2 linked regions of the Homo sapiens genome follow. The protein of the gene in region 1 purifies or fractionates together with the protein of each later gene. This does not show direct contact. Each region holds a gene or a part of one and is shown on either strand. Other genes may lie near its edges. The genes, in order: LACTB2 and OGA.

Region 1 (15,531 bases):
CTCTCTCATTTTTCATCTTTTTGCCTTTTTACTATACTTTCTGGGAGATTTTTATTAACTTTATCGCCTAATCTTACTACATGTTTTTATTTCTGTTCTCAGATTTGTAATTTTCAGAAACTTTTTGTTCCCAAAATGTTGCTTTTATACTAACCTAATCTTGTTTCATAGTTGCAATTTCTTCTTTTTTTGCTGAGGATATTATATTCTGTGGGGTTTGGTTGTTTTGGAAATTTTCTTCATAACCCCCTTTGTTTGCTTGTTCGTTTTTATGCGCTGTCTTCAACATAACTTTCCTTAGATGCCTAGTAATCCTGTTTATCTTCTGATGTTTACTAATTGTGTTCTGATGGAAACTACAGAGCTGTTTGGGAGCTCTGAGAATGTGGGGGGGAGTCTTCCGTAGGCTTTAGGCCTCACTGTAGGATAATCTGGATGAGCTCTTCAGTTGGGAACTTTCCAACATTGGTATCGTAGAGTCTTTCTTCCTGAGATGGTAAAATAACTTAGAAAAAGACTCTTCTAATCTTCATGTAGCGTAAAGGCCTGGCTGCCAGAATTATAGAAGCTGAGTGTGGAAAGAAGGCATAGGAATCTACATATATTCTTGTAATCTTACTTTTTTTTAGTATATTGTCACTTCCTGCATCTATGCCTCTGTTTTACCCTCTTCAAAGATTAAACCTCCAGCGTTTCCCTTAGTGAGATTGGGGCACTTCTCAACTCAAAGTGGGAAGAGACTCTTGAGGATCTGAATGTTTGCTAAAAAGACTTTCAACAGACTTCTTATTTCAGCCACCTTCCTTCCACTTCACCCTCCACTTCCAGATTTCCTAAATCCTTAGACTTTGAGGAATTCTGCAGTGCAAATCTGATTGGTTCTCAGCTTTCCCTGCTGCTTATTTAGGCTTCCATTTTCTCCTGTCTGGTAAGTCACTTATCACTCATCTATATGTCATCACATTTACCTTATTCCCACAAAATATTCCATTATTGGGAAGATTTATTAAGTATATCCCAAACATGGCTGGGTACAGCGGCTCCTGCCTGTAATCCCAGCACTTTGTGAGGCCAGGGCAGGCAGATCACTTGAGGTCAGGAGTTTGAGACCACCCTGGCCAACATGGTGAAACCCCATCTCTACTAAAAATACAAAAATTAGCCAGGTGTGGTGGCGGGCACCTGTAGTCCCAGCTACTCAGGAGGCTGAGGCAGGAGAATTGCTTGAACCTGGGAGGCAGAGGTTGCAGTGAGCCAAGATTGCACCACTGCACTCCAGCCTGGGCGACAGAGCGAGACCCTGTCTCAAAAAAAAAAAAAATTATATATATAGATAGATAGAGATATATATATTCCAAGCACATAAAAACTCAATACTGACTAGAATAGCAGGTAATTATCCTCTTAAACTAAATAAAATATAATTTAAACCATATTCCTTCAGACATGTATTGCTATTTGCTGTGATTTATTTATGTAAAATGTAAAATGGAGAGGCTAATAATGCCCAACCCAAAGTAGTGTAAGGATTAAATGTAATTTGTGTAAATCCCTGAAGACACTGCCTGGTACATGGAAAGCAATCTATTACTAAAATTAACTACTACTAAGTGCCAAGTACTGAGCGTATAAAAATGAAAATGAGATGAGAGTCCTGCCCTTCTGGAACTCATAACCTTGTGAGGTAGAATAGCAAACAAAACAATGTGAAGCCTACAGAATAACACATAATTCAAAGTAGAAGAAGAATATAGAGGCAACAGTGACCAGTACAGAGAATTAAGTCTGTATATTGCTGAGAAGTCGGGGTGCTTTGCAGAACAGATTATTTGAACTCAGCTTTTTGTTTATCTGGTTTATTGTTGGCATAGTTACAAAACAATATAAATGTAAATAAGAATTTTTGAAATAAAATACCTGTCATACTTTAAAAGTATTATAATCAGTTTTGTCAACAAAAACTGAAAATTGGAGGAAAGGAAAAAGGAAATAAATGCATGTTAAGTTTCTTATATAGGGTAGAATTTATAAAAAACGGCTCTGTCTTAAAATGTTTAACTAGAGAGAAAAAAATAGATTAAAGAGTCTTTTTCTGATTTGCGTTTCTCTGATGGCCAGTGATGATGAGCATTTTTTCTTGTGTCTTTTGGCTGCATAAATGTCTTCTTTTGAGAGTGTCTGTTCATATCCTTTGCCCACTTTTGATGGGGTTGTTTTTTTCTTGTAAATTTGTTGGAGTTCATTGTAGATTCTGGATATTAGCCCTTTGTCAGATGAGTAGATTGCAAAAATTTTCTCCCATTCTGTAGGTTGCCTGTTCACTCTGATGGTAGTTTCTTTTGCTGTGCAGAAGCTCTTAACCACAATGAGATACCATCTCACACCAGTTAGAATGGCGATCATTAAAAAGTCAGGAAACAACAGGTGCTGGAGAGGATGTGGAGAAATAGGAACACTTTTACACTGTTGCTGGGACTGTAAACTAGTTCAACCATTGTGGAAGTCAGTGTGGCGATTCCTCAGGGATCTAGAACTAGAAATACCATTTGACCCAGCAGTCCCATTACTGGGTATATACTCAAAGGATTATAAATCATGCTGCTATAAAGACACATGCACATGTATGTTTATCACGGCACTATTCACAATAGCAAAGACGTGGAACCAACCCAAACGTCCAACAATGATAGACTGGATTAAGAAAATGTGGCACATATACACCATGGAATACTATGCAGCCATAAAAAATGATGAGTTCATGTCCTTTGTAGGGACATGGATGAAGCTGGAAACCATCATTCTCAGCAAACTATCGCAAGGACAAAACACCAAACACCACATGTTCTCACTCATAGGTGGGAATTGAACAGTGAGAACACATGGACACAGGAAGGGGAACATCACACACCGGGGCCTATTGTGGGGTGGGGGGAGGGGGAGGGATAGCATTTGGAGATATACCTAATGTTAAATGACGAGTTACTGGGTGCAGCACACCAACATGGCGCATGTATACATACGTAACTAACCTGCACGTTGTGCACATGTACCCTAAAACTTAAAGTATAATTTAAAAAAAAAAAAGAGTCTTTTTCTGACCACCTTCTGCATGTTAAGAAAGTTTCTTTTAAGCTTTTAGATAATAACTACTAAAATAAATTTACCATTTATTAAGCATGCAATTTTGTGCCATCTGCTATGCTAAGCACTTAAATACTTGTCTTTGAAAAGTATATACTGATGCCAGCCTAGGCAACATAAAGAGACCTTGTCTTTACAAAAAAATAAAAATAAATTAGCCAAGCGTGGTGGCACATACCTGTGCTCCCAACTAGTCGGGAGGCTGAAGTTGGAGAATTGCTTGAGCCCAGGAGGTTGAGGCTGCAGTGAGCCAGGAACATGCCACCACGCTTCAGCCTGGGTGAGAACAGCTTGGAAAACATAACAAGACCTTGATATATCTCAAAAATAAATAAACATATATGTATATATGTGTATATGTGTGTGTGTGTGTATATATATATATAAAATGATGTAAACATATAATGATGTAGGAAAATACAATATAGTAAGTTAAGATTTCAAAAATCAGGTATTAAAACAATATCAGTTTTGTTTTTAAAATATATAAATATGCATAGAAAATCAAAAAGTATATATTCTGTAATAATAAAAGCTCTCCCTCTGAGGAATAGAAATGATTGTTGATGTTCATTTCTTTTAAACACTTTACTTTTCTATTTTCCAAATTTGTTATAATCAGTGCTTATTATTTATAAAGTAAGAAAAATGGTAGGAGGCCAGATGAGGTGGCTAATGCCTGTAATCCCAGCACTTTGGGAGGCCGAGGTGGTAGGATTGCTTGAGTCTAAGAGTTCAAGACCAGCCTGGTCAATATTGTGAGATCCTGTCTCTACAAAAAATAAAAATAAAAATAAATTAGCCAGGCTTGGTGGCCCACACCTGTGGTTCCAGCTACTCAGGAGGCTGAGGTGGGAGGGTCACTTGGGCCCAGAAGATTGAGCCTGCAGTGACCTGTGATCCTGCCTCTGCACTGCAGCCTGGGCAACAGAGTGAGACCCTGTCTCAAAAAAAGAAAAGAAAAAGGGTGGGAAAAGTATTAAATTTTACTTCAGAGTGAGAATCTTGGTTTAGTTAAAGGAGAGAATTTTCTAATGATAATTTTCAGTGGGTTCAAGAAAAGAAAAAGCAGCTTTTTAACTCATCTGTTTATTTGTGTCTAAAGATAAGGATACAGAATAATTTACTTCTCAAAATTTCTTCTAAGCTCGAGTTCATAATTGTTATTATTCCTTATTTCTTCTTTCAACCAGAGTTCTATATACCCCTGGCCACACTGATGATCACATGGCTCTACTCTTAGAAGAGGAAAATGCTATCTTTTCTGGAGATTGCATCCTAGGGGAAGGAACAACGGTATTTGAAGACCTCTATGATTATATGAACTCTTTAAAAGAGTTATTGAAAATCAAAGCTGATATTATATATCCAGGTGGGTAATTTTTAAATTTTTTTATATTTTTATGTTTTTAAATAGAGACAAGGTCTTGCTATGTTTTCCAGGCTGTTCTCAAACTCCTGACCTCAAGCAGTCCTCCCACCTCAACCTCCCAAAGCGCTGGGTATACAGGCATGCCAAAGTGGGTAGTTTTTCAAACCTAGCAAACCATTTGTGTCAAATGATGAGGAAGGTTCATTTTGGCTTGTCTCTGTATGTATTTGGCCTTGAAGAGATAACATATAAGGCCAGGCTCAGTGGCTCACACCTGTAATCCCAGCACTTTGGGATGCCAAGGTGGGCAGATCATGAGGTCAGGAGTTCAAGACCAGCCTGGCCAACATGGTGAAACCCCATCTCTACTAAAAATAAAAAAATTAGCTGAGTGTGGTGGCGCACACTTGTAATCCCAGCTACTTGGGAGGCTGAGACAGGAGAATCGCTTGAACCTGGGAGGTGGAAGTTGCAGTCAGCAGAGATTGCACCACTGCATGCCAGCCTGGGTGACAGAAGCAAGACTCTGTCTGGGGGAAAAAAAAAACATATCAACTACTTCTTTAAAATATACCCCTCTTTGAGAGGCCTAGGTGGGCAGATCACCTGAGGTCAGGAGTTCGAGATCAGCCTGGCCAACATGGTGAAACCCTGTCTCTACTAATAATACAAAAATTACCCAGGCGTGGTGGCAGGTACCTATAATCCCAGCTACGCGGGAGGCTGAGGCAGGAGAGTTGCTTGAACCTGAGAGGTGGAGGTTGTAGTGAGCCAAGATCCGCCATTGTACTCCAGCCTGGGCAACAGAGCGAAACTCTGTCTCAAAAAAAAAAAAAAAAAAAAAAAAAAAAAAAAAGGAAAATACACCCCTAAGTCCTGTCTAGCTGTGCAGTTAAACTTAAAGAGAAGGCCAAGAGCCATATTAATAACTTTTGATAAAGATATGAGGGTTATTTTTCAACATACAGTTATTAATAGAACTGTTAAAAAGACATAAACTTACATTGAAATGGGAAAATGTTTTCATTCCATAAACCACTGTTATTTTTGTTAACTTGATTTTTATTTGGACCACATTTTAGCTGTGTAACTTTGGGTAATGTTTGACCTCTGAGCTTTAGTTTTTTTAATTTACAATATTGAAATACCAATAGCTTCTATATCAACTATAAAATGGTATCTTTATTTCCATTCTCCAGAAAAAGAAACATGTTAGTGTCTCAGATCTCACTAGACTGTTCTACAATATCAATCTCTCCTTCATCTGAAGAGCTAAGAAATGGCCAGGCGCAGTGGCTCACGCCTGTAATCCCAGCTCTTTGGGAGGCCAAGGCAGGCAGATCACCTGAGGTCAGGACTTCAAGACCAGCCTGGCCAATATGGCAAAACCCCATCCCTACTAAAAATACAAAAATTAGCCAAGCGTCTTGGTGGGCACCTGTAATCCCAGCTTCTCAAGAGGCTGAGGCAGGAAAATCACTTGAACCTGGGAGGCAGAGGTTGTAGTGAGCAGAGATCACGCAACAGAGTGAGACTCCTTCTCAAAAAAAAAAAAAAAAAGCTAAGAAAGACACAGGACCCAATAAAAAGGCCCAAAAGGAAAAAGGGACTAGGTCACTTAACTTCCTAAGTTCTTCTAACTTGCGATTAACCAAGCCATTGAAAGATCCGTCCATCCAGTATCTTCAACACATTTACACTCTGCGATGAGTTCCTACTGCTGGGGGAATAGAAAACATACGGTAGAGCTGGGCATTTAGATTTATATGATGACATTAAAGGATTGCGGGCTGATAGCTTTGGGGGGGTTTGTTTGTTTGTTTTGCTTTGTTTTTGCTAAAGACAGCTATTTTTAAAGCGAAGAGGGCAGACGTTGAGTGAATTCACATTCAAGCTAAGCTAATGAGAGGCTACCTAGTAAAGATTCTAGAGTGCTTTAGTGAATCCAGTGAACTGGCTTACTAGCACAGCAGTTGTTTATATGTAAATTATGCTCTGTAGCCATAGCTACCATATATTAAAGTCTTCTAGCCATCAGGTTTTGTGCAGGGGCCTTTACAGTTGTCATCCTCACCAAAACCCATGTAAAGTAGGTAGTGGTTTCCTCACCACACAGCAGAAGAAACAGCTTAGAGAGATTCAGATACTTCCTCATTTATTAGCCACACAGCAAATAAATGATAGGTCTGTGTCTAACCAGATCCCGTAATAGGTTAGCCTGCTTCTGGATATTTTGTTCTCAAATATTTAAGAACATCATTCTTGCAGACTTATATAATATATAATATTAATGTGTACTGTCTTAAAGGGGAAGTAAATTATAGTATAACTTAATCTGGGTTGTCAAAATTTCTGACATACAGAAGCCTATACATAGGATTCTTAAAGTTTTACTGTGGGTCTTGTGAATTTTTAATAGAGCTTGGTCATGTACATGAAACTGCTTTTTACATTGTCCTTTTGCAGTATTTTATAAGCTTAGCCTAATGGTCAAGAGCACAGAGTGGTTAAGAGATCCTGTCAGAATCCTAACTCCACCCCTTCTTAGCTATGTAACTGTGGACGGATTATTTACCCTCCGTATGTCTCAGTTTCTACCATAAGAAATGTGTAATAATTGTACCTACTTCATGGGATTCTTGTAAGAATAATGTATGTTAAGCATTTAGGGCAGTGCCTAGCACATAGTGAGCACTCCATAAACATTACCTATTGTTATTATTGTAGTTGCTATTTTTATTGCTGTGTTTTATTGTTAAATTTCTATTCCATATTTTTAATGTACACAATATTTTCTATAGATTGTATTTGCTATAATTTTCTAATTGGGGGGTATTGTATATAATTTTTAAATCTCTTTCACCTGTATAGCTTTCCAAATAGTTCATATTTGACATTTAGTATGCTTTTTCAATATATCATATGAATTATTTTTAAATAGAGTGAGTTAGCTTCTGTTGTACTTAGTATTTTTTTATCTGACTGAAGTAACTCTTATAATTATTTTAATTCAGGACATGGCCCAGTAATTCATAATGCTGAAGCTAAAATTCAACAATACATTTCTCACAGAAATATTCGAGAGCAGCAAATTCTTACATTATTTCGTGAGAACTTTGAGAAATCATTTACAGTAATGGAGCTTGTAAAAATTATTTACAAGGTAATTTTCAGTTTTCTTATTTGTATGTAGCCACAAATTTATTAGAATTATCTATTTAGTAGACTATAGAAATGATAAACTTATATCCCAGATCAGAAGTTACGCCACTTTTCTAGATTTGAGACCAGCAGCCTAAACTTTCTACAGTGCTAAAATTAAACAAAAACTGGCCTTAGAGAACAAAGATAGCCATTTCGAGCCATCATTGAACTTTATATACTTAACTATGTAGGAGAAACTGCCTAACTATGTAGGAGAAACTACCAACAGCCTGATGATTACATTTTGTAATAATTTTTGCATTATTCTAGCCATCTTGATTATCTTGTGTCCCAGCCTGCACCAAGAGAGGAGGGGTGACCTGCTAGACACAAATATTGGAATGTTAACAGTGAGAAGTAGTAGCAAAGCAGTGAGAAGTAGTAGCAATGCCAAACAATGGAGAAAAAGAAAAAAAAAATCAAAGAACATGAGTAAAATAGTATGTAGGGAAAGAGCCTTACACCTCACTGGCCTCTGAGAATATCACTGTATTGACAGCACTATATAGCAGTCAGTATAATTCAGTTTTTCAGCAAATGTTTATTAGATGTCTGCTGTGTAGGCAGCATAGCTTAGAGGTTAAAAATGTAAGCTTTTGTGGCCAGGCGTGGTGGCTCACCCCTGTAATCCCAGTATTTTGGGAGGCTAAGTGGGAGGTTTGCTTCAGCCCAGGAGTCCGAGACAAGCTTGGGCAACATAGTGAGACCTCATCTCTACAAGAAATTTTTTAAATGAGCCAGGTGTCATGGAACATGCCTGTGATCCCAGCTGCTCGGGTGGTTGAGATGGGAGGATCACATGAGCCTGGGAAGTCAAGGCTGCAGTGAGCCTACATCGCACCGTTGCACACCAGCCTAGGTGACAGTGCAAGACTGTATCTCAAAAACTTTTTTTTTTGAGATGGAGTTTTGCTCTTGTTGCCCAGGCTGGAGTGCAGTGGCGCCATCTTGGCTCACCACAACCTCTGCCTCCTGGGTTCACGCGATTCTCCTGCCTCAGCCTCCCGAGTAGCTGGGATTACAGGCATGTGCCACCATACCCAGCTAATTTTGTATTTTTAGTAGAGATGGTGTTTCTCAATGTTGGTCAGACTGGTCTCGAACTCCCGACCTCAGGTGATCCACCCGCCTCAGCCTCCCAAAGTGCTGGGATTACAGGCATGAGTCACTGCGCCCGGCCCAAAAACTTTTTTAAAAAAATTAAATTTAAATTAAAATATACAAAGATATTACCCTGTAACCTAATAAATAAATTACAGGGCCAACTGTCTGTAGCATCATGAAAACTTTCTAAGAATAATTTTACATTTATTCATTCATAAAATATTAATGTGTTTCTGCTATGTATTATTATGCTAAACACTGAATATTCAGTAATGAACAAAACAGATACTGCTGCCAGGCCGGGCATGGTGGCTCACGCCTGTAATCCCAGCACTTTGGGAGGCCGAGGCGGGCGGATCACCCGAGGTCAGGAGTTCGAGACCAGTCTGGCCAACATGGTGAAACCCCATCTCTACTAAAAATACAAAAATTAGCGAGGCATGGTGGCACACGCCTGTAATCCTAGCTACTCGGGAGGCTGAGGCACGAGAATAGTTTGAACCTGGGAGGTGGAGGTTGCAGTGAGCCGAGATCGCGCCATTGCACTCCAGCCTAGGTGACAAGAGTGAAACTCTGTCTCAAAAAAAAAGATACTGCTACTGTCTTTATGGAGCTTACAACCTATTCTATCTATAGGAGTATATATAGAATATAAAACAAGATGTATACAAAGTGAAATTGTTAAAAATGTCAAACAAGTTAAAAATGTGTTTAAGATAGGCCAGGCGCAGTGGCTCACGTCTGTAATCCCAGCACTTTGGGAGGCCGAGGCAGGTGGATCACAAGGTCAAGAGATCGAGACCATTCTGACCAACATGGTGAAACCCCGTCTCTACTAAAAGTACAAAAATTAGCTGGGCGTGGTGGTGCTCGCCTGTAGTCCCAGCTACTCGGGAGGCTGAGGCAGGAGAATTGCTTGAACCTGGGAGGCGGAGGTTGCAGTGAGCCGAGATGCACCACTGCATTCCAGCCTGGCGACAGAGTGAGACTCTGTCTCAAAAAAAAAAAAAAATGTGTTTAAGATAAACTTTTGCTACATTTTGCTTTTCTTCAAAGCTTTCAAAAAATTAACTGTGTTCTTTTTTTTAAAAAAAAAGGAATTTTTTTCACCTTCATTTTTCTTTTAGAATACTCCTGAGAATTTACATGAAATGGCTAAACATAATCTCTTACTTCATTTGAAAAAACTAGAAAAAGAAGGAAAAATATGTGAGTATGCTTCCAAATTTTCTTCTATTACCAGCATTTAAAATATTTTTACAGATGCCTTAGTTTCCTTTGAGGAAAAATAATACCCATCAGAGTTCTCCCATGAATATCACTTTAAGTTGGAGAGACAGGCGCTAGGAAGGTCAGTAGCACAGGGCCAGTGGACCACAAGCTGGAACCAAAAGCTCCCAGGGGAATTAGAATCTCAGTTGGAATTCCAATCCTTACCCACCAGAATGGCAATCAAAGACATGTAGCAGGAAGATAACTTTTCTTCTCCCAGACCCAAAAACCACGAAGAATTTCACATGTGGTAGATTTGGGAACAGCCAAAGGTTTTAAACAGTGGTAAAGGTAGTAAACTTAGAGATGTCAAAGCAGTAATTATGTAATTATTTTCTAGTGTTAGTTTGTCAAACTAATAATCTTTATAGAAATGTAATCCTTAAAATCCAGAATTCTAAGCTTGAATTTGATGTAGAAGCCTTAGCAATGTTTTTACATGTACCAAAAATACCCAACTTTATATTGAGCAACAAAATTATTTTAAGAATGAATGCTTTTTCTAGCCACAAGGTAACTTAAAATTCAGTGCATTTACTTATCTATTGTTAAATTTTTACTCTCTGATTTTCTTTTTACAGTTAGCAACACAGATCCTGACAAGAAATGGAAAGCTCATCTTTAGTTTCAGATTAAAGAAAGCTTTGTTTTATTTTGCTTTCAGAGAATGGTATGTTTTCTTAACTATAGGTTATTTTATAGAGAATATAAAAGTATAAAACATTAAAAATAACCCTAGATATACTTTAAAATAATGTTATATTTATGCTAAAATATGTAAATTACACTATACAACCATATGATAGGTTATTTCTCTAACCTTGTCTTCTAACGTTTTACCAAAAATTCATAATCTAATAGTTTATCAGTTTTCAATAGATTAAATAAAATGATTACTTTAAAAATAATAAAATTTATCTAATTTAAAGTTGATATTATTTTTGGCCGTTAGTTATCTATTACTAGTGATCAGTTATACTGTTTTCTATAGCTACTTTATTTAACAGCACAGATTTCTATGCACCTTTACTCTTTCCTCAACCCTTGTCTCTATCTGTACATAATTGCTTTGTCTTGATGTTTCTATCAACTATATCATGACTATCTATTGGTTCCATAACTCTGTATCATGTGTATTTTCTTATTCTGGTATACCACAAATGATTCATGCAAATGAATTTTTGGTGATTGAAAAATATTAAATTCCCAATTTAAAGTATTATATGATAAATAATTATTTCTGTAATCCATTAATGCAACCAACATACTTTCCAAGTTTAAATCTTAGTATGTAAATAGTCATCAGCTTATACATGAATTAGGTACCAAAAGTTTACATTTAAATTAAAGGATTATAAGATAGGGCATTTTTTATATTTTTATATAAGTAGTGTTCTTATATAGTGGTTAGGTTCACAAGGTAGTCCACCAATGCTTACTTAACTTATACAGTTCTCAAACTACAATACTAAAATAAGCCCAGAATCCTGAGTGTATTTTGTTTACTCTTCCCTAAAGATTGAGACTTAAAAATTTTTTTTTGTTTTATTTGTTTGCTTTTGAGACAGTGTCTCTCTCTCTCTGTCACCCAGGCTGGAGTGCAATTGCACAATCTCCGCTCACTGCAGTCTCTACCTCCCAGGTTCAAGCAATCCTCCCACCTCAGCCTCCTGAATAGCTGGGACTACAGGCACATAGCACCACACCTGGCTGATGTTTTTATTTTTTATACAGACAGAATCTCACTATGTTGCCTAGGCTGGTCTTGAACTCCTGGGCTCAAGCAGTCCCCCTGCCTCAGCCTCCCAGCATGCTGGGATGATAGGCATGAGCTACCACACCCAGCCAGACTTAAAATTTTTTTAATTTCCTTTGGCAGCTTCACCTCTTTCTGCCTCTTTTCCCAAGGTCCCTAGCATTTTCATGCCATCCTAATACACTTATTCTCATGCTTTGAAGACCTAGACCCGTATTCCTAGAACTGGTTCTTATTACAAAATAACTTATAAACTCAAAAACAAAAGCAACCTGATTGAAAAATAGACAAAGAACTTGAGTAGACATTTCTCCAAAAAAGATATACAAGTGGCCTATAAGCACATGAAAAGATATTCATCATCACTCATCATTAGATAAATGTTAAAACCCTGAGATACCACTTCAGGCCCATTACGATAGCTGTTACTAAAAATTAAAAATTAAAAAAAAAAAACAGAAAATAACAAGTGTTGGCAAGAATGTGGAGGAATTAGAACCCTTGTGCATTGCTGACAGGAACATAAAATAGTGTAGCCACTATGGAAAACAGTATGATACTTCCTCAAAAAAACCTTTAGAATTACCATATGATCAGCAATTTATCTTCTGACTATATACCCAAAAAATTAAAAGCAGGGACTTAAACAGACATTCGTACATCCATGTTCACAGCAACTTTATTCACAATAGCCAAAAGATGGAAGCAACCTAAATGTCCATTGAAGGATGACTGGATAAATAAAATGTGGTATACACATACAGCAGAATATTAGTTCTTCTTAAAAAGGAGGGAAATTCTGACGTGGGCTACAACATAGATGAACCTTGAAGACATTATGCTAAGTGATATTAGCCTGTCACAAAAGGATAAATACTATACAATAGTACTTATAGGAGGTGCGTAGAGTAGTCAAATTCATACAGACAGAAAGAAGAATGGTGGATACCAGGGAATAGGAGGAAGGGGAAATGGGAAAATAGTGTTTCATGTAAGAAGTTTTGCAGTTTGGGTAGATGAAAAGAGTTCTGGGGATAGGTGGTAATGGTGATTGCAAAACACTGTCAATGTACTTGATGTCACTTAATGATACTGTGTTAGGGTTCTCCAGAGGGGCAGAACCAATAATAATATTACTGTATATATAAAAGGGAGGTTATTAGGGAGAATTGGCTTACACAGTTACAAGACAAAATCCCACAATAGGCTATCTGCAAGCTGGGGAAATGAGAAGCCGGTAGCCTGGCTCGGTCCAAGTCCAAAAGCCTCAAAACCAGGGAAGCCAACAGTGCAGCCAAGGCTGAGGCCAAAGGATTTATTCTTTTTTTTTTTTTTTGTAACAGAATCTCACTGTGTTGCCCAGGCTAGAGTGCGGTGGTGCGATTTCAGCTCACAGCAACCTCTGCCTCCTGGATTCAAGCAATTCTCCTGCCTCAGCCTCCCGAATTGCTGGGATTATAGCCCCAGCTAATTTTTGTATTTTTAGTAGAAACTGAACTGGTTCTTATTAGAACTATATTTTTAGTTTCACCATGTTGGCCAGGCTGGTCTCAAACTCTAGGATTCATTCTTGATATGCCTCTCTTCCTCCTCTTATAACCAAATCTTCACCAAGTATGTAATGCCTATTCCACCTCCAGAATGTATCACTACCTCTTACCCCACCAATACTCCTTAGTCCAGGCCATGGTCCTCTCTTGCCTGAACTAGTGCAATCAATTCTGGGCTTCCTACTTCTATTCTTGGAGGAAATTGGGGAACAGGGGTGAGAAGGGCATTCTGAGCTGAGGAAATCTTACGTAAAAGCCATGGAATTATTGTCTTTTTATAGTACTGTGGCCCACTTCAGATACTGCAGGCTGCAATTAGATATATTGGAAGAGGGGTGATAATGGAAGGCTAGTACATTTATTGTTTATGGAAAGAGTCTAGCAACTGAGAGCTTTAACCAAAACAATGGCATTCATTAAATGTCTGCTTTGTCCTGGGTACTGGGCCAGGCCCTGGGGATACAAAGGTAAACAAAAGAAGCTCATATTTTAGTTATGAAGACATACAATTACCATGTGCTAGAGTAAAGGAAGAGGAGCTAACCTGGCTGAGTTATAGAAAGCTGCTTAGAGGACCCTGAGCTCAGTCTTAAAAGATGAGTACATGGTAGGCAGACGAAGTTAGGGGTATTTGTATGGGAGACGAGAGGAATTGTTCTAACTGGAGGAAATCGTGTATGCATATAAACAGATATGGCAGAGCATCATTTGGTTGGGGAACTAATTTATACAACTAGAATTTATGGTATTGTGTGTTGAGGCCATAGGGATAACAAGAATCTCATGGGAACACAGAATTCACACAGAAAGCAACGTATTGTCATCCAGCCATGCTTCATACAGATTGGAGTATATATACTTTAGGAATTGGAAAGCAGTTCAGGTTCTGGGGCAATTCTAGTGTTATTTAGTTGTATCCTCACAGCAAGAGTTGGCCCTCTTCTATTATGGTGATTTCATTCCTCTATTCATTTCCATTACTTCAGACAATCACTTTACCTTCCGTTCAGAACACCCGGAAGTTTTGGCTGACTCATTTTCTGTTTATTCAAGAGTTTCCGAAGCCTGCTTGTCGTCACCTCTGCCTTCTCTCTGCATATCTTCAGCCTCTGTTTGGCAACTGAGTAGCCCTCTTTGTATCTCGGGTACTGATCTCCTCATAGAAAACAATCTGATTGGTGTGTTTGTTCTCTGTTTGAGAGAATTTTCTTGCCACACTTTCTTATATGTTACTGACCAGCCTTTATGCTGACTGCTCTGGACCAATCATCTGGGACGAGAAGTTTTATCAGAAGGGGACAGGGACCCCATTGAACAGAGGCAGTGGGGAGCATAAGCACTCTGAGATTTGGTCTTTTCAGTATAGTGGGGGAAGGAAAAAAACAGAAGAGGTACCAAGGATACTAGAATAAGGGATAAGAGATAGGATAAATATTTAAGAAGAGGAATAGCACTTAGAAACCTATTAGATATTGAGAGATGGGGGATCAGGCAGAAAGAGAGAAGTCTAGAAGAGCTATAGATTTCTGGCTTGGGCGGCTGGGTAGATGTTGGTAACCAGATTGAGAGAATAGAGGAAATGGGACAGGTAGAGTACAGAAGAGAAGAAAGATGCATTTTACTACAGATACAAGTTTGAAGTACCAGGAAACATCCAAAGGGAGATACCTAGTAGGCACTCAGATATATGGAACTGGAGCTAAGCAGATAAGATATATTTTGTTACAGGTAACAGAAACTTATTTCAACAAGCTTAAGCAAAAGGGGAAGTTGGTTGGCACATATAACCAACCTGAGAAGAATAAGGGTAGAGCAGAGCCAGGCCTGTGAACAAGAACAGATGTTTACATCCCATCAATACAACCCCAAACCTCTCACCTCTATTTATCTTTGCAAGTAAGAGACCCCACAGTCAACTGGGTTCTTCACATGATGAAGGACATGGACATGGTTATGGGAGCTCTGGGCTCATGTTATTTTTTTTTTTTTTTTTTTTTTTTTTTTGGAGACAGGATCTTGCTGTATCACCCAGGCTGGAGTGCAGTGCCACAGACACGGCTCACTGCAACCTCTGCCTCCCGGGCTTGAGTGATCCTCCTGCCTTAACTTCCCCAGTAGCTGGGACCACAGGT
Region 2 (15,531 bases), on another chromosome or scaffold:
TTGCCTTATGTGTGCTAATTTGTGGGTCTCTGTCGATTATCTCTTTTTTTTTTTTTTTTCTGAGACGGAGTCTTGCTCTTGTTGCTCAGGCTGGAGTGCAATGGCCCGATCTCAGCTCACTGCAACCTTTGACACCTGGGTTCAAGCAGTTCTCCTGCCTCAGCCTCCCGAGTAGCTGGGATTACAGGTGCCTGCCACCACGTCTGGCTAATTTTTTGTATTTTTAGTAGAGATGGGGTTTTACCATGTTGGCCAGGCTAGTCTCAAACTGCAGACCTCAGGTGATTTGCCCGCCTCAGCCTCCCAAAGTGCTGAGATTACAGGCATGAGCCACCATGCCTGGCCTCTTCTTTTTCCCTCAGCGCCTTTATTAATGAAGTTACAGTCGGTTGTAGTGGCTCACGCTTGTAATCTCAGCACTTTGGGAGGCCCAGGTGGGCAGATCACAAGGTCGAGTTCGAGACCAGTCTGGCCAACATGGTGAAACCCCATCTTCACGAATAATAGAAAAATTAGCTGGGCATGGTGGCATGCGCCTGTAGTCCCAGCTACTGGGGAGGCTCAGGTGGGAGAATTGCTTGAACCTGTGAGGCGGAGGTTGTAGTGAGCCAAGATCCTGCCACTGCACTCCAGCCTGGGTGATGGGGTGAGACTCCATCTCAAAAAAAAAAAAAAAAAAAAAGAAGTTACAAGGCCCTGAAGGCTATGCAATGTTTTCTTCATACGAAAAGCATGGTACTTTTGACCTTGACTTCCCAACAATTAGTACTCAGTAGACGGTTAAGATTGACTCTTCCACTGATACTAAAATTTATATTTCTTATTTCAATTGAGATTTTACATTTAACATTACGTTTAGGTTACTATCCTATATGAAGTGGTTTGGTGAAGGGTCTTGCTTTTATTTGAATTTTTATGTTTAAGGTTTGTTCTCATTCTGTTCTTTGTTTCTGTGGTTATACTGTGAAAACTAGTTGCATTTATTCTTCTCACTTGTCAGAAGGCTTTTGTAATCAAAACTATTTTTGTGCTTTTTTATTTTATTTTTTGCAGCTGACAGTGAAGATAGTACTGTGTCCATCCAGATAAAATTAGAAAATGAAGGCAGTGATGAAGATATTGAAACTGATGTACTCTATAGTCCACAGATGGCTCTAAAGCTAGCATTAACAGAATGGTTGCAAGAGTTTGGTGTGCCTCATCAATACAGCAGTGAGTTTGGCCATTCTTTGTTAAGGGGGTTAGATCACATAGTTGAGTCACAAAGTAAAGAACACTGTCTCCCGGGTGTGGTGGCTCACACCTGTAATCTCAGCACTTTGGGAGGCCGAGGCAGGCGGATCACCTGAGGTCAGGAGTTCGAGACCAGCCTGGCCAACATAGTGAAACCTTGTCCCTACTAAAAATACAAAGATTAGCCGGGCGTGGTGGCATGCGCCTGTCGTCCCACCTACTTGGGAGGCTGAGGCAGGACAGTCGCCTCAACCTGGGAGGCAGAGGTTGCAGTGAGCCAAGATTGAGCCACTGTACTCCAGCCTGGGTGACAGAGCGAGACTCTGTCTCAAAAAAAAGAACACTGTCATGTGCCTTACCTTATGCCCACTAAGCAAAGTGAAATTAAATGAAATTGGGGGATCTAGAGAATAAGGATTTTTAAATCTTACTTTTGGTCTTAAATATTAGCTTTTATTTTGATGGAATGCTAATTTCTCTTAAAAACATATTTTTTGAAGTAATTTAAGGGTTTTTAGACACAAATTTTCAAAAGAGAATGTAATAGTAGATGTTGGCATGTTTACCTCCCAACGCCCTTCCATTCCTGCATCCCTAGTAGTATAGAGAAATCTCATTTTTCTTAGAGGTCAAATTAATTTGGATCTAAAATTGAGGTTCCACTTAACAAATATGATAAAGCATCTTTCTGAATCTAATGTGTTCTATCTCTAATTCTGATTATCTGTGTGACCATTTTATTTATACATTTATTTATTTTTGTAGGTAGGCAAGTTGCACACAGTGGAGCTAAAGCAAGTGTAGTTGATGGGACTCCTTTAGTTGCAGCACCCTCTTTAAATGCCACAACCGTAGTAACAACAGTTTATCAGGAGCCCATTATGAGCCAGGGAGCAGCCTTGAGTGGTGAGCCTACTACTCTGACCAAGGAAGAAGAAAAGAAACAGCCTGATGAAGAACCCATGGACATGGTGGTGGAAAAACAAGAAGAAACGGACCACAAGAATGACAATCAAATACTGAGTGAAATTGTTGAAGCGAAAATGGCAGAGGAATTGAAACCAATGGACACTGATAAAGAGAGCATAGCTGAATCAAAATCCCCAGAGATGTCCATGCAAGAAGATTGTATTAGTGACATTGCCCCCATGCAAACTGATGAACAGACAAACAAGGAGCAGTTTGTGCCAGGTCCAAATGAAAAGCCTTTGTACACTGCGGAACCAGTGACCCTGGAGGATTTGCAGTTACTTGCTGATCTATTCTACCTTCCTTACGAGCATGGACCCAAAGGAGCACAGATGTTACGGGAATTTCAATGGCTTCGAGCAAATAGTAGTGTTGTCAGTGTCAATTGCAAAGGAAAAGACTCTGAAAAAGTGAGTATGTTTAATGTACCTGCTGCTGAAGCCTGGGTGGTTCCCCATACTGGTAATGTGGAAAAGGTTCTTAAATGAGTACACTGTAACTGACAGAAAATTGACCATGTTTTAGAATATGTTCTTTAGGCCGGTTATGATGGCTCATGCCTGTAGTCCCAGAACTTTGGGAGGCAGAGGCGGGCAGATCACCTGAGGTCAGGAGTTTGAGATCAGCCTGGCCAACATGGTGAAACCCCATCTGTACTAAAAATACAAAAATTAGCCGGGCATGGTGACGGGCACCTGTAATCCCAGCTACTCAGGAGGCTGAGGCAGGAGAATCGCTTGAAGAACCCGGGAGGCGGAGTTTGCAGTGAGCTGAGATCGTGCCATTGTACTCCAGCCTGGGTGACGAGAGGGAAACTGTCTCAAAAAAAAAAAAAAAAAAAAAGTATGTTCTTTACAGTGGATGTGGACTCTACTAAATCTGGTACCTTCAGTTTCATAGTTTGCCCTTCTAGTTAAGAATGAGGAAAGGTCATTATTTTAGGAATATTTGTCAGTTTGGGGAGACACAAAATGATACTTTAATGGTTAAGATAAATTGCCAGTACCTGACAACATAAGCAGCTTAATGTGTAACTGTGTCTCAGATTATTTTGTTAAGCTTACAGTTTTTTGAGTCTTTTTATTGATCTTCAATAGATTGAAGAATGGCGGTCACGAGCAGCCAAGTTTGAAGAGATGTGTGGACTAGTGATGGGAATGTTCACTCGGCTCTCCAATTGTGCCAACAGGACAATTCTTTATGACATGTACTCCTATGTTTGGGATATCAAGAGTATAATGTCTATGGTGAAGTCTTTTGTACAGTGGTTAGGTAGGTGCACCAGGAATAATCTCTTCTCCTCAAATATATTGTCCCTTTAAAAAAAATTATCCCACAGGGAGAAAAACATTTAGGGAATTGGCACATTTCCAAGTCTCTTCAATTCGTTGCCTAGGTTTCTTTCAAAAATAGGCATTATTGAAGACTTGAGATGCAAGTCTTAGTAAATACATCAAGCACATTAATTTTTCTCCCTTGGGCTAATTCAGCATAAGTATCTTAAAAGTATGTTAGAAAGTACTGACTTTAACTTGCTCTGACTGAATGCTTTCTGGATGGAACCCTGTATACCACTTTTATCTGATTTGGAGATGAGACACTATGAAATGTGACTCCACAAGCTTTCTGCTGCTTGCTGTGTCTTGATAACATTAATGCTATGTTTAACAGAACAATTGCTGAAATGACCTAAAGGGCCTGGCAAGAGGAAGCCATCCTCCCAGCCCTGTGCGCATGCGAGCTTTAGTGTAAGGCTATTCTGGTGCTATTCAGTATTATTTCACGTGGCTTTTTCTTTATCCTTCTACCAAGTATTGGTTTTACCAGGGGATAGAAATTGTAATCCCCTAAACATCTCTGCTACATTAAATGGACTTTTGTATGTCTCCTTTGAACACTGATTTTTTTTTTTTAAATTGTCAAACTTGGTAAAAAGCACCAGCATGGCCAAGTTTCTCTAGGGACTTCATTTCATTTTCAGGTTTTCAATCCAGCTATAAGGAATATGTAATGGACTTATATACAGCACACAGCAGGCAGCAAGGCTGACTGACATGTCATAGTTTTCATAGTAGTCACAAATACTATGATGGGTTTCATGGTCTTGGTTGTGAAATAGATATCTGAAACACCGTGAGCTTAGAATAAAAAGTAGTAGTGAGATTTTCCACTTTCTGCCTGTATACCTTTGAGCTCTTAAATATTTAAAAAAAAAAAAAAAAAGTTTCCCTGTGATACAACTAATTAGCTACTAAAAGTAGAGTCTCAGATTGTTAATTTGAAAATAGATAACTTTTTTTGGATTGCTGTAATAACAGGTAGAAGAGAGTATTTTGACCTCATGTTAAAAGGCTCTGTATAGCTTCGGGCGCGGTTGCTCACCCCTGTAATCCCAGCGCTCTTGGTGGCTGAGGTGGGTGGATCACTTGAGATCAGGAGTTCGAGACCAGCCTGGTGAAAACCAGCATGAGACCAGCATGGTGAAACCCTATCTCTACTAAAAAAATACAAAAATTAGCCAGGCGTGGTGGCGCATGCCTGTAATCCCAGCTACTTGAGAGGCTGAGGCAGGAGAATTGCTTGAACTCAGGAGGCAGAGGTTGCAGTGAGCTGAGATCACACCATTGCACTCCAGCCTGGGCGATAGAGGGAGACTCCATCTCAAAATAAATAAATAAATAAAGGAAATACTGACCGTGCGCAGCGGCTCAAACCTGTAGTCCCAGCACTTAGGGAGGCCTAGGCGGGCAGACCACAAGGTCAGGAGTTTGAGACCAGCCTGGCCAATATGGTGAAACCCCATTTCTACTAAAAATACAAAAATTAGCTGGGCGTGGTGGCATGTGCTTGTAGTCCCAGCTGCTTGGGAGGCTGAGGCAGAAGAATCACTTGAACCCAGGAGGTGGAGGTTGCAGTGAGCCGAGATTGTGTCACTGCACTCCAGCCTGGGTGACAGAGCGAGACTTCATCTTGTGGGGCTGGGGGGAGGCTCTGTATAGCTCCTGTACATGGGAGACATCTACCCTTAGGCTCAAGAGACCTCAATATTGGTTGCTGGATGACAACATTTGCCTTCCAGGTTTCTGCTCAGGTTCTTATAATTCATTCTTATAGGGATTTAAACTTAAGTTTCTAAGGCCCTTAGGAATTTTGAACCTGAAATCTGGATTATTGAGCTTGAAATGTATTACAGAAAACATTTGATATTCAGTTTTTAATTTAAGAATTATTAAAAGTTAAATTCTTAATGATACACAGTATTGTTTCTTTCTCTTCTCAGGGTTTATCTCTGCACTGAGCATTTATGGTGGTAGCTTTCCAAAATTATATAGATACCTCTTACACAATCTCAAGCTCTTACAGCAAGCTTGTCCAGCCTGTGGCTCAACACAAGTTTGTAAACTTTCTTAAAACATTGTGAGTTTTTTTATTTTTTATTTTTTTTAAGCTCATCAACTATCATTAGTGTATTTTATGTGTGGCCCAAGACAGTTCTTCCAGTGTGGCCCAGGGAAGCCAAAAGATTGGACACCCCTTGTAACATCTTAGAAGTTTTAAATAATTATCTTCATATCCACATAGCTTTACAAAAGCTCACGACAGGGAGAGTATTTTCTTGGTTCTGTAGTAATTTCAGGGGGTTTACTGATTGGAACCCTTCCTTTTCCTCCTCTCTCCAGTCCAGCTGGCATTCAGTCCTTTAAACAATGTGGCTATGCAGTACTTTTGATTACTAATGACTTCTATTATCTTCTTCCCCATTGTGTACAGATGGGAGAATCCTCAGCACAAGTGTCTACTACTATTGGATGGACAGCGGCAGATGTTCACAGCGCGTCATGATTAATTAGTTTAAATTGCAAGGTTCTATCTGTGAGGTAGCTCAGGTAGATTTAAGGGCGGTAGACATGAACTGAAGTCACGTTTGCGCAGCGACTGAGGCATTAACCATGTTTTCATTTACACAGCTCTTCGTACATGCAGCTTTTTATTGTAATAGTTGGAAGTGCTAGTTATGTTGTAGTCTCAAAGTAGGGGGTAGGGGAAATTGGCTGATCTTAAAGTTTGAGAGGTATAGTTTTTTTCCTGCAGTGTAAATTACACTGAGTTACGGAATGGGACAGGTTCTCGTATAGTCTAAATTTTGACCCTGTTTCATATTTATTTTACAAATACTACATTTTATGTTTTTTAAAAGTACCCCTACCCTTGAAAAATGACAAACCAGATACAAACTCTTAATGGGCCTGAATTGTTAACAAAAAATTGGTTTGCTTTGGGACTGTCTGACTAGCACACTATATTTGTACTGATGAGACTGTTAACTTGAACAGGAGGTAGAATGCTGTCTTCCAATGGAAAAGAACTATATTGCGCTGCTTTATCTTGTCAGAAGACTAGGCAAGTGATTTTGATTTGGCCTCCAAACATTTGCCTTTATGTCTTACTGTTAGCTAGCGTTATTGCCTATTAAGTTAGTTAACTGGTGACCTTAAATAGAGACTTCTGTATTCCATGTGTATGTTCAGTGTATTGCAAAGATTATTATAATGGCTGGTCAGAGGAACCAGATACTGTCATACTTTTAAGAAAAGTATATTTAGCTCTGGGCAAAATAACATCAATTGGCTCTCCTTAGTTCTCAGAATCTGTCAGACTGGTATTATTAGCCAAGTCTGATTTTGAATTGTTTTTGTCCAAAAAAATTTTTCTCATTATGTTTCATTTTGTCAACTTAATTTCTTGTATTTTATTCTACTGACCTTAGTTTTCTGACAAGATTAATCCTTCTCCCCCGCCCTTTTCCCTTACCTGTACCCTTCCTCAAAATGTAAAATGTGACTTCAGACAGGTTGAATTCCTTCATGGGCTGTGATAATAAAGTGTCTAATTATCAGTCATTTTAGTTAATAGTTACTATAATTTTATGACAGAGCAAGCAGCTAGCTTGATTTGTATAATATCTAGGGAATATATAAAGTTGACTCAGACAAACTTGGGACTTACTTTCCTTCCAGTAATTAAAGAGTAGAACTGATAATACTGATTATTCATTAATTGGAGGAAGGAACATTAGTATTGAAATGCCGTTAACATTTTAAAAAATAATAATTATTATCATAGCCTTGCCCTGAAACCCTGATTATTGTTAGAGAGTTATTTCCACGAAGTGTTTGTCAGTTTGTTGGACATTTGAGACCCCAGGAAATCCCCTTTCTCGTAACGTTCTCCGCTTGGATCTGATCTCAACAGGGTGTCGTAGTCATTCTTCAGCACAATTCTTAATTGGAGACCAAGAACCCTGGGCCTTTAGAGGTGGTCTAGCAGGAGAGTTCCAGGTATCAATATGAATTCACAACTGAATTGACATTTTCTTTGTTTTATGAGAAACCTTATGTTGCGCATCAGATGGCTGGAAGGATTGGTCTGCCGAAGGCTTTCTAGTCCCAAATTCAATTTAGTTACATAGCTGGATTTTTAAATCAAATTTTCCTCCTCTTTCACAGTAATTTCTGAAGGAGATGCTGCCAATCCCCCCCGCGCCTGCGAAGCGCAGCGGCTCTAGGTATACACTTCACATTGTTTCTTTGCAGGTCGCACAGCATTTTAATCTGCGCCCGCAATGCACAATGCGCGCATGCTTGTCTGCCAGTGGAAGCTCCATGAACAAAAGATAGTAATTATGCCAATAAATGGTGAAAGAGCTTTTGGATATTTATCCAATTATTTTATAAATATAATGTGCTTGAAAGAATTGTCCATTGCTGAAAATATGAACAAAATAGGAAGTTTTTTTGCTGCTGGAATTTGTTCATGGACTTTCTAGGTGCTCTACTTTTCTCCCCCCAACAGGTGCTCTGCTGCGCACAGCAAACTGAAGCGCATTGCTTTGGGGATAAAGCGTCTCCTGGACAGATAACCCTCTTCAGACCAAACCTCTCCTCCTGACATTCTGTTCTGCCATCTTATCGTAGGGAGATGGTCTATCTAAGATAGGTTTTAAAAAAAAATAGATTTGTCATAATTGGAATAGGTTTGTTTTTGTTTTTGTTTTTGTTTTTACTGTAAATTTAAATCCCCATTAATATGCCACTAAAGCTGTAACTCAGAGTGGGTAATTTCTATTCAGAAGCACTCCCCTCCCCCAGCAAAGAGGTATTTCTATTAGTAAAGCATAGTACACCCCTCTTCTTTAGGTCTGCCTGCAGTAGCCAGTTAATATAAGTTGGTAATCTGCAGTGCACACCCATTTAAAAAAATGGATACCTTCCCCAAACTAATCCATCTCCTTTTTTTTCTTCCCACAGCGTTTGCTGCCAATTGATGGGGCAAATGATCTCTTTTTTCAGCCACCTCCACTGACTCCTACCTCCAAAGTTTATACTATCAGACCTTATTTTCCTAAGGATGAGGTAATTGTCTCTCTACCTACCAACTTGGTGTATGGGTATGGTGCACACTTAAAACTTAACCTTTTAACTCACTGGTTAAAGGAATCCTTCTGTCTTAAAACTGCAAACTTTAGATGGAGAAAGTTCATTAAAACATTCAGTGTATCTTGAGAAATTTAAGGAGTTTAGACTTTTAACATCTTGTGCCAAGTTCTTTAATTTCTCCCTTGAGAAAGTCAGATGAAATGTATTCAGAGTTGGAGTTACAAAATAGTTAATGTGTCTAAATGATGTGTTGTCCTTAGACTAATTATCTCTAATATATTGGTGTTCTGTAATTTTCTTTCAATTGTGAAGTATCTACAGGCTGTTGACAATCAGCTAAAGAAAAAAGCAAGACTGTTTAAAGACAGTAACAGGGCCAGGCGCGGTGGCTCACGTCTGTAATCCCAGTACTTTGGGAGGCCGAGGTGGGCAAATCACCTGAGGTCAGGAGTTCAAGACCAGCCTAGGCAACATGGTGAAACCCTTTCTCTATTAAAAATACAAATAGGCCGGGCTTGGTGGCTCATGCCTGTAATCCCAGCACTTTGGGAGGCCGAGACAGGCGGATCACGAGGTCAGGAGATCGAGACCATGGTGAAACCTTGTCTCTACTAAAAATACAAAAAAAATTAGCTGGGTGCGGTGGTGGGTGCCTATAGTCCCAGCTACTCGGGAGGCTGAGGCCGGACAATGGCTTGAACCCGGGAGGCAGAGCTTGCAGTAAGCCGAGATCATGCCACTGCACTCCAGCCTGGGGCGACAGAGCGAGACTCCGTCTCAAAAAAAAAAAAAAATAATAAATAATAAAAAATAATACTAAATTAGCTGGGCGTGGTGGCGGGTGCCTGTAATCCCAGCTACTCTGGAGGCTGAGGCCGGAGAATTACTTGAGCCTGAGAGGCGGAGGTTGCAGTGAGCCAAGATCGTGCCATTGCACTCCAGTCTAGGTGACAGAGACTCCGTCTCAAAAAAAAAAAAAAATTAGATGAGTATGGTGGCGTATGCCTGTAATCCCAGCGAATTGGGAGGCTGAGGCAGGAGAATCACTTGAACCCAGGAGGTGGAGGCTGCAGTGAGCCGAGATTGCACCACTGCACTCCAGCCTGGTGACAGCAAGACTTTGTCTCAAAAAACAAAAAAACCATCCTCTGCAAAAGCCAATTCTCAGTATTCCTAAAACCTTGCTGTTTTTTGCTGGTTTTACAAATCTGACTCAATGAATAAATCTTTATTTTACAAAGAAGAGGTGATATTTCTGATAGATGTTTCTGACAGGCCATTTTGTTACTCCCTCCCCAGACTGACTTGTGAGTTATATTGTTAGATTCTGCTGCCATTTTTCTTGATGTGTTGCTTAACTAGATTATATTTTCAGGCATCCGTGTACAAGATTTGCAGAGAAATGTATGACGATGGAGTGGGTTTACCCTTTCAAAGTCAGCCTGATCTTATTGGAGACAAGTATGTGATAAGTATTTGGATTTGAGAGTAGACCTTTCATAGTGAGGCTTATCAGGTTGAGGGGAGGTGATGACTGGAAATATATTTATTTATTTTAAATCCCACTTTGGCTTTAGTAAAATCTGAATATGTGTGCATTTCTAGTTTCTTACACCAAATGTAGGTTCCGTAAGTTCATGCAAGTACAGTGGGTCTTGGATCACTGAAGTCTGAATTTTATATTAGCAACTGAAAAGTTTACTGTGGCCTCTTTCCTTCTGAGCAGGTTAGTAGGAGGGCTGCTTTCCCTCAGCCTGGATTACTGCTTTGTCCTAGAAGATGAAGATGGCATATGTGGTTATGCCTTGGGCACTGTAGATGTGACCCCCTTTATTAAAAAATGTAAAATTTCCTGGATCCCCTTCATGCAGGAGAAGTATACCAAGCCAAATGGTGACAAGGAACTCTCTGAGGCTGAGGTAATACAAAGGTTAAGAATTATACTATGGTAATGGTCTTTTTTATTTATTTATTTTTATTTTTTATTAAAGTACTTACTAAAATGGAAAAGTACATAGATACATCATAAAATCTTAGTGCTTTCTAAATTAATTTTCTTGCAGAAAGAATTCTTATGGCTTATTCTTAGCATGACATTTTTCACTGTTTCCCCAATATTGGGACAGTTTTTTATTTGGGAGTACTATTGTAATATTTCCTCAGGTGAAAACACAATAAAGACAAAGAACATTTTTTTCCTCTGTTTTAAAGTTTCATACTTAAAGATGTTATGGTCTTGGTCAGGCACAGTGGCTCGTGCCTGTAATCCCAGCACTTTGGGAGGCCAAGGCGGGTGTATCACCTGAAGTCAGGAGTTCAAGACCAGCCCGGCCAACGTGGTGAAACTCCATCTCTACTAAAAATACAAAAAAAAATTAGCTGGGTGTGGTGGCGGGTGCCTGTAATGCCAGCTACTCAGGAGGCTGAGGCAGGAGAATTGCTTGAACCCAGGAGCGGGAGGTTGCAGTGAGCTGAGATGGCGCCACTGCACTCCAGCCGGGGCAGCAGAGTGAAACTCTGTCTCAAAAAAAAAAAAAAAAAAAAAAAAACAAGATATTATGGTCGTTTTGTTGAGTACTCAGGACAATTTAAGTAATTTAAATCTATTTGGTGGTTTCTCAGAAGGTTAATAACTTGCCTTCTGACTAATGCATTCTACATTGTGATTTAAAAATAAGAGCTCTTGAGAGTCTACTTTGTGATAGGAGCACTTCTTAATAAGTCTGTCCTGTCCCAACTTAAATACATTTTTCATCTCCAAAAAAGTTTTATGCCCCATGTTGGCCAACACATTACGTGATTATTTTGGTTTATACATCAGTATATGTTGTTGTTGTTTTGAGACAGTGTCTCACCTTGTCACCCAGGAATGCAATAGCACAAACATGGCTCACTGCAGCCTTGACCTCCCAGGCTCAAGTTATCCTCTTGCATCAGCCCTGCAAGTAGCTGGGACTACAGGTGCAAGCCACTACGCATCAGCTAACTTTTTTGTATTTTTTTTGTAGAGATGGGGTTTCGCCGTGTTGCCCAGGCTGGTCTCAAAGTCCTGAGCTCAAGCAGTCCGCCTGCCTCGGCCTCCCATACTGCTAGGATTACAAGCACGAGCCACTGTGCCTGGCCAGTATATGCATTTTTTAGATAGTTCCTTCTTGAGGATAGTTTTTATGCACAGTAAATAAGATATTTGGACCCCTACTTGTGATACTTTTTTCTTTTCTTCTATGTTGTTTCTCTTTTCCTTTTCTAAAATTCTCTACCCCTCTCCACCACACCAAAGTATTCATAGTCTTTTTATTTATTTATTTATTTTTTTGAGACAGAGTCTTGCTCTTGTTGCCCAGGCTGGAGTGCAGTGACGCAATCTTGGCTCACCGCAACCTCCACCTCTCAGGCTCAAGCAGTTCTCCTGCTTCAGCCTCTCGAGTAGTTGAGATGACAGGCATGTGCCACCACGCCCGGATAATTTTATATTTTTAATAGAGACGGGGTTTCTCCATGTTGGTCAGGCTGGTCTCAAACTCCCGACCTCAGGTGATCCGCCCTCCTCAGCCTCCCAAAGTGCTAGGATTATAGGCGTGAGCCACCGCGCCTGGCCTCATTTTCTTCATAGTTTATTTCTATATTTTACCTTCTGCCCTTAGTCACATGGCTGTGTAACAAGAGGCTGGTTTGGTGTTGCCTCGCTTACTTGGGATTACACTGACACTATGCTGGTGATTGAGCTGCTGATGTATTGCTGTTCCACATCTGACACTTTTCAGCATAAGAACTTTTTAAAAATTGTGGTAAAATATAAATAACATAAAATTTGCACATTTTCATGTAAGGAATACGTTAATTTAAAATATTTTATGTATTTTAAATGATTTTAGATTTACAGAAAAGTTGCAGAGTTAAAACAGAGTTTCTGTATACTCCTTATCCATTTTCTGTATTGGTGAAGTCTAAGTAACCAACATGGGTATATTATTAATCAGACACCAAACTTTATTCACCAGTTTTTTCTGCTAATGTCCTTTTCCTGTTCCAGGATCCAATACCACATAGCATTTAGACAAAATTTTTTTTTTTTTTTTTGAGACGGAGTTTCCCTCTGTCGCCTGGGGTGGAGTGCAATGGTGCGATCTCGGCTCACTGCAACCTCCGCCTCCCAGGTTCAAGTGATTCTCCTGCCTCAGCCTCCCGAGTAGTCGGGATTACAGGCGCCCACCACTAGGCCCAGCCAATTTTTGTATTTTTACTAGATACGGGGTTTCACGATGTTGGCCAGGCTGGTCTCAAACTCCTGACCTTGTGATTCACCTGTCTCGGCCTCCCAAAGTTCTGGGATTACAAGTGTGAGTGAGCCACCACGCCTGGCCAGAAAACTTTTTTTTTTTTTTTTTTTTTTCCCCGCCCAGGCTGGAGTGCGGTGGCAGGATCTCAGCCTACTGCAACCTCTGCCTCCCGGGTTCAAGCAATTCTCCTGCCTCAGCTTCCCGAGTTGCTGGGACTACAGGCGCACGCCGCCATGACTGGCTAATTTTTTATGTTTTTAGTAGAGACAGGGTTTTACTTTGTTGCCCAGGCTGGTCACAAACTCCTGAGCTCAGGCAGTCTGCCTGCCTCAGCCTCCTAAAGTGCTAGGATTACAGGCGTGAGCTACTAGACCCAACCCAAACTTTTTTTTTTTTTTTTTTTTAAGACAGAGTCTCGCTCTGTTGCCCAGGCTGGAGTGCAGTGGCGCCATCTCAGCTCACTGCAAGCTCCGCCTCCTGGGTTCACGCCATTCTCTTGCCTCAGCCTCCCGAGTAGCTGGGACTACAGGTGCCCGCCAACACGACCTAATTTTTTGTATTTTTTTTTAGTAGAGACAGGGTTTCACTGTGTCAGCCAGGATGGTCTTGATCTCTGGCCCAAGCTTTTAAAAGTGAAAACGGTGGCCAGGCACGGCAGCACACACTTGTAATTCTAGCACTTCAGGAGGCCGAGATAGAAGGATCACTCGAGCCCAGGAATTCGAGACCAGCCCTGACGATATAAATAGGGAAAGAGAGAGAGAGAGAGAGAGAGCGCGTGCACGCGAGGGAGAATGCCTGCCCCTCTCCAGCCTGGCCAACAGAAGGAGATCCTGTCTCAAAGAAAGTGAAAATGCTTCAGCTAGAATTATAGGATAATCCTGTGTGAGATAATTTACATAGTGACTGGAAGAGTTATTAAATATTGCTTTCTTGTTGCTAAGTTCTGTAGTTGGGTTAGATATCTAATGCGTAACTATTGTGAAAGTCAAGAGATTCTAATTTTTCCAGAAAATAATGTTGAGTTTCCATGAAGAACAGGAAGTACTGCCAGAAACTTTCCTTGCTAATTTCCCTTCTCTGATAAAGATGGACATTCACAAAAAAGTAACTGACCCAAGTGTGGCCAAAAGCATGATGGCTTGCCTCCTGTCTTCACTGAAGGCTAATGGTGAGTACATATTTGTGGAGTTGGTGGTATTTGGGCAAGATAGGGAAAGAACTATATATTTTTGGATATAAAAGGAAAGAAGTGAATTGTAAATTTATACTGCTTTTCCCACCTTTTATGATTTGGTTTCTGAATTAATTAGTGGTGAAGAATCGCATGTGTATTAATAATTGAGAAATGCTGGTTGGGCTTAGTGGCTCATGCTTGTAATCCTAGCACTTCGGGAGGCCGAAGTGGGAGGATCACTTGAGTCCAGGAGTTTGAGACCAGCCTGAGCAATATGGCTGAGACCCCATCTCTACCTAATTTAAAAAAAAAAAAAAAAAAGGCCGGGCACGGTGGCTCACGCAGCACTTTGGGAGGCCGAAGTGGGCGGATCATGAGGTCAAGAGATCGAGACCAGCCTGGCCAACATGGTGAAACCCTGTCTCTACTAAGAGTGGTGGCAGGCGCCTGTAATCCCAGCTACTCGGGAGGCTGAGGCAGGAGACTTGCTTGAAGCCGGGAGGCGGAGGTTGCAGTGAGCCGTGATCTTGCCACTGGACTCCAACAGAGCAAGATTCTGTCTCGGGTGCGGGGGAAGCTGGGTGCAGTGGCTCACGCCACTCATTATTGAATTTTTTGAATATGAATTTTTTTAATTGTGTGAAATGTAGGAGCTGGTGTAGACAGACAAGCCCTGTTTATATTAACCATCTCGAAGATTATAGTTTTATATCTATAATTATACTAATTAAGTGACTTATTTATGTTTTGAATATTTGTTTTATTTCTAGGCTCCCGGGGAGCTTTCTGTGAAGTGAGACCAGATGATAAAAGAATTCTGGAATTTTACAGCAAGTTAGGATGTTTTGAAATTGCAAAAATGGAAGGATTTCCAAAGGATGTGGTTATACTTGGTCGGAGCCTGTGACATTTGTTGACACTGTGAACTGTCCAAAAGTCTCTTAACTGCACCTTGTGAATGGTAGTTGAGGTCTTCATACAGTTCAGCCTCTAGAATGGTAACAAATCAGCCAATTGGATTCGAAACAAAGAAGACTATGTAAAACTCACCCATCACACTTTGAGACTACTCACTGGTTGGAAGAATATAGTATTGCAGCAAATCCTGTATGAAAGAGAGATGTGGGCTTCCTTTTTGAGTCTTGTGTTAGGTGCTGAGACCTTTTACATGGGCTTATACAGGGAGAGAGTCTTCAATAAATGTAGTCAGCACTATTTTCTGCATCCAGTGTGGTTGCGTTTCTCACCTGAGAGTAATCAAGATAACATCTGTCATCTTCCTTGGTTTATTGAGTGAAATGCCTCTCAGTCTTAGGGGACATGGCAGAGATGAAAGAAAGAAAGAGTGGGTTTCAGAAGTGTCAGGGTGGAGTGATTCCAAGTGGGATGGTTGTGGCATTAGTTTAAGCTGAATAAATAATTTCAATTTGGGGCA

The links.
Region 2: the proteins of LACTB2 (region 1) and OGA purify together in Homo sapiens (affinity purification with mass spectrometry; 3 studies listed by BioGRID and IntAct, with this or other methods). This does not show direct contact.

What each region holds. Positions count from the first base shown.
Region 1 is NC_000008.11:70,633,047-70,648,577, reverse strand, and holds the end of LACTB2 (endoribonuclease LACTB2), read left to right. Parts: intron 1-4,334; coding exon 4,335-4,513; intron 4,514-7,527; coding exon 7,528-7,676; intron 7,677-9,948; coding exon 9,949-10,030; intron 10,031-10,674; coding exon 10,675-10,718; 3' UTR 10,719-11,312; downstream 11,313-15,531.
Region 2 is NC_000010.11:101,785,923-101,801,453, reverse strand, and holds part of OGA (protein O-GlcNAcase), read left to right. Parts: intron 1-1,053; coding exon 1,054-1,212; intron 1,213-1,998; coding exon 1,999-2,612; intron 2,613-3,299; coding exon 3,300-3,474; intron 3,475-5,482; coding exon of another isoform or gene 5,483-5,613; exon of another isoform or gene 5,614-5,973; coding exon of another isoform or gene 5,974-6,053; exon of another isoform or gene 6,054-7,455; coding exon 7,456-7,541; intron 7,542-8,510; coding exon 8,511-8,615; intron 8,616-10,014; coding exon 10,015-10,100; intron 10,101-10,365; coding exon 10,366-10,558; intron 10,559-13,930; coding exon 13,931-14,090; intron 14,091-14,866; coding exon 14,867-15,003; 3' UTR 15,004-15,531.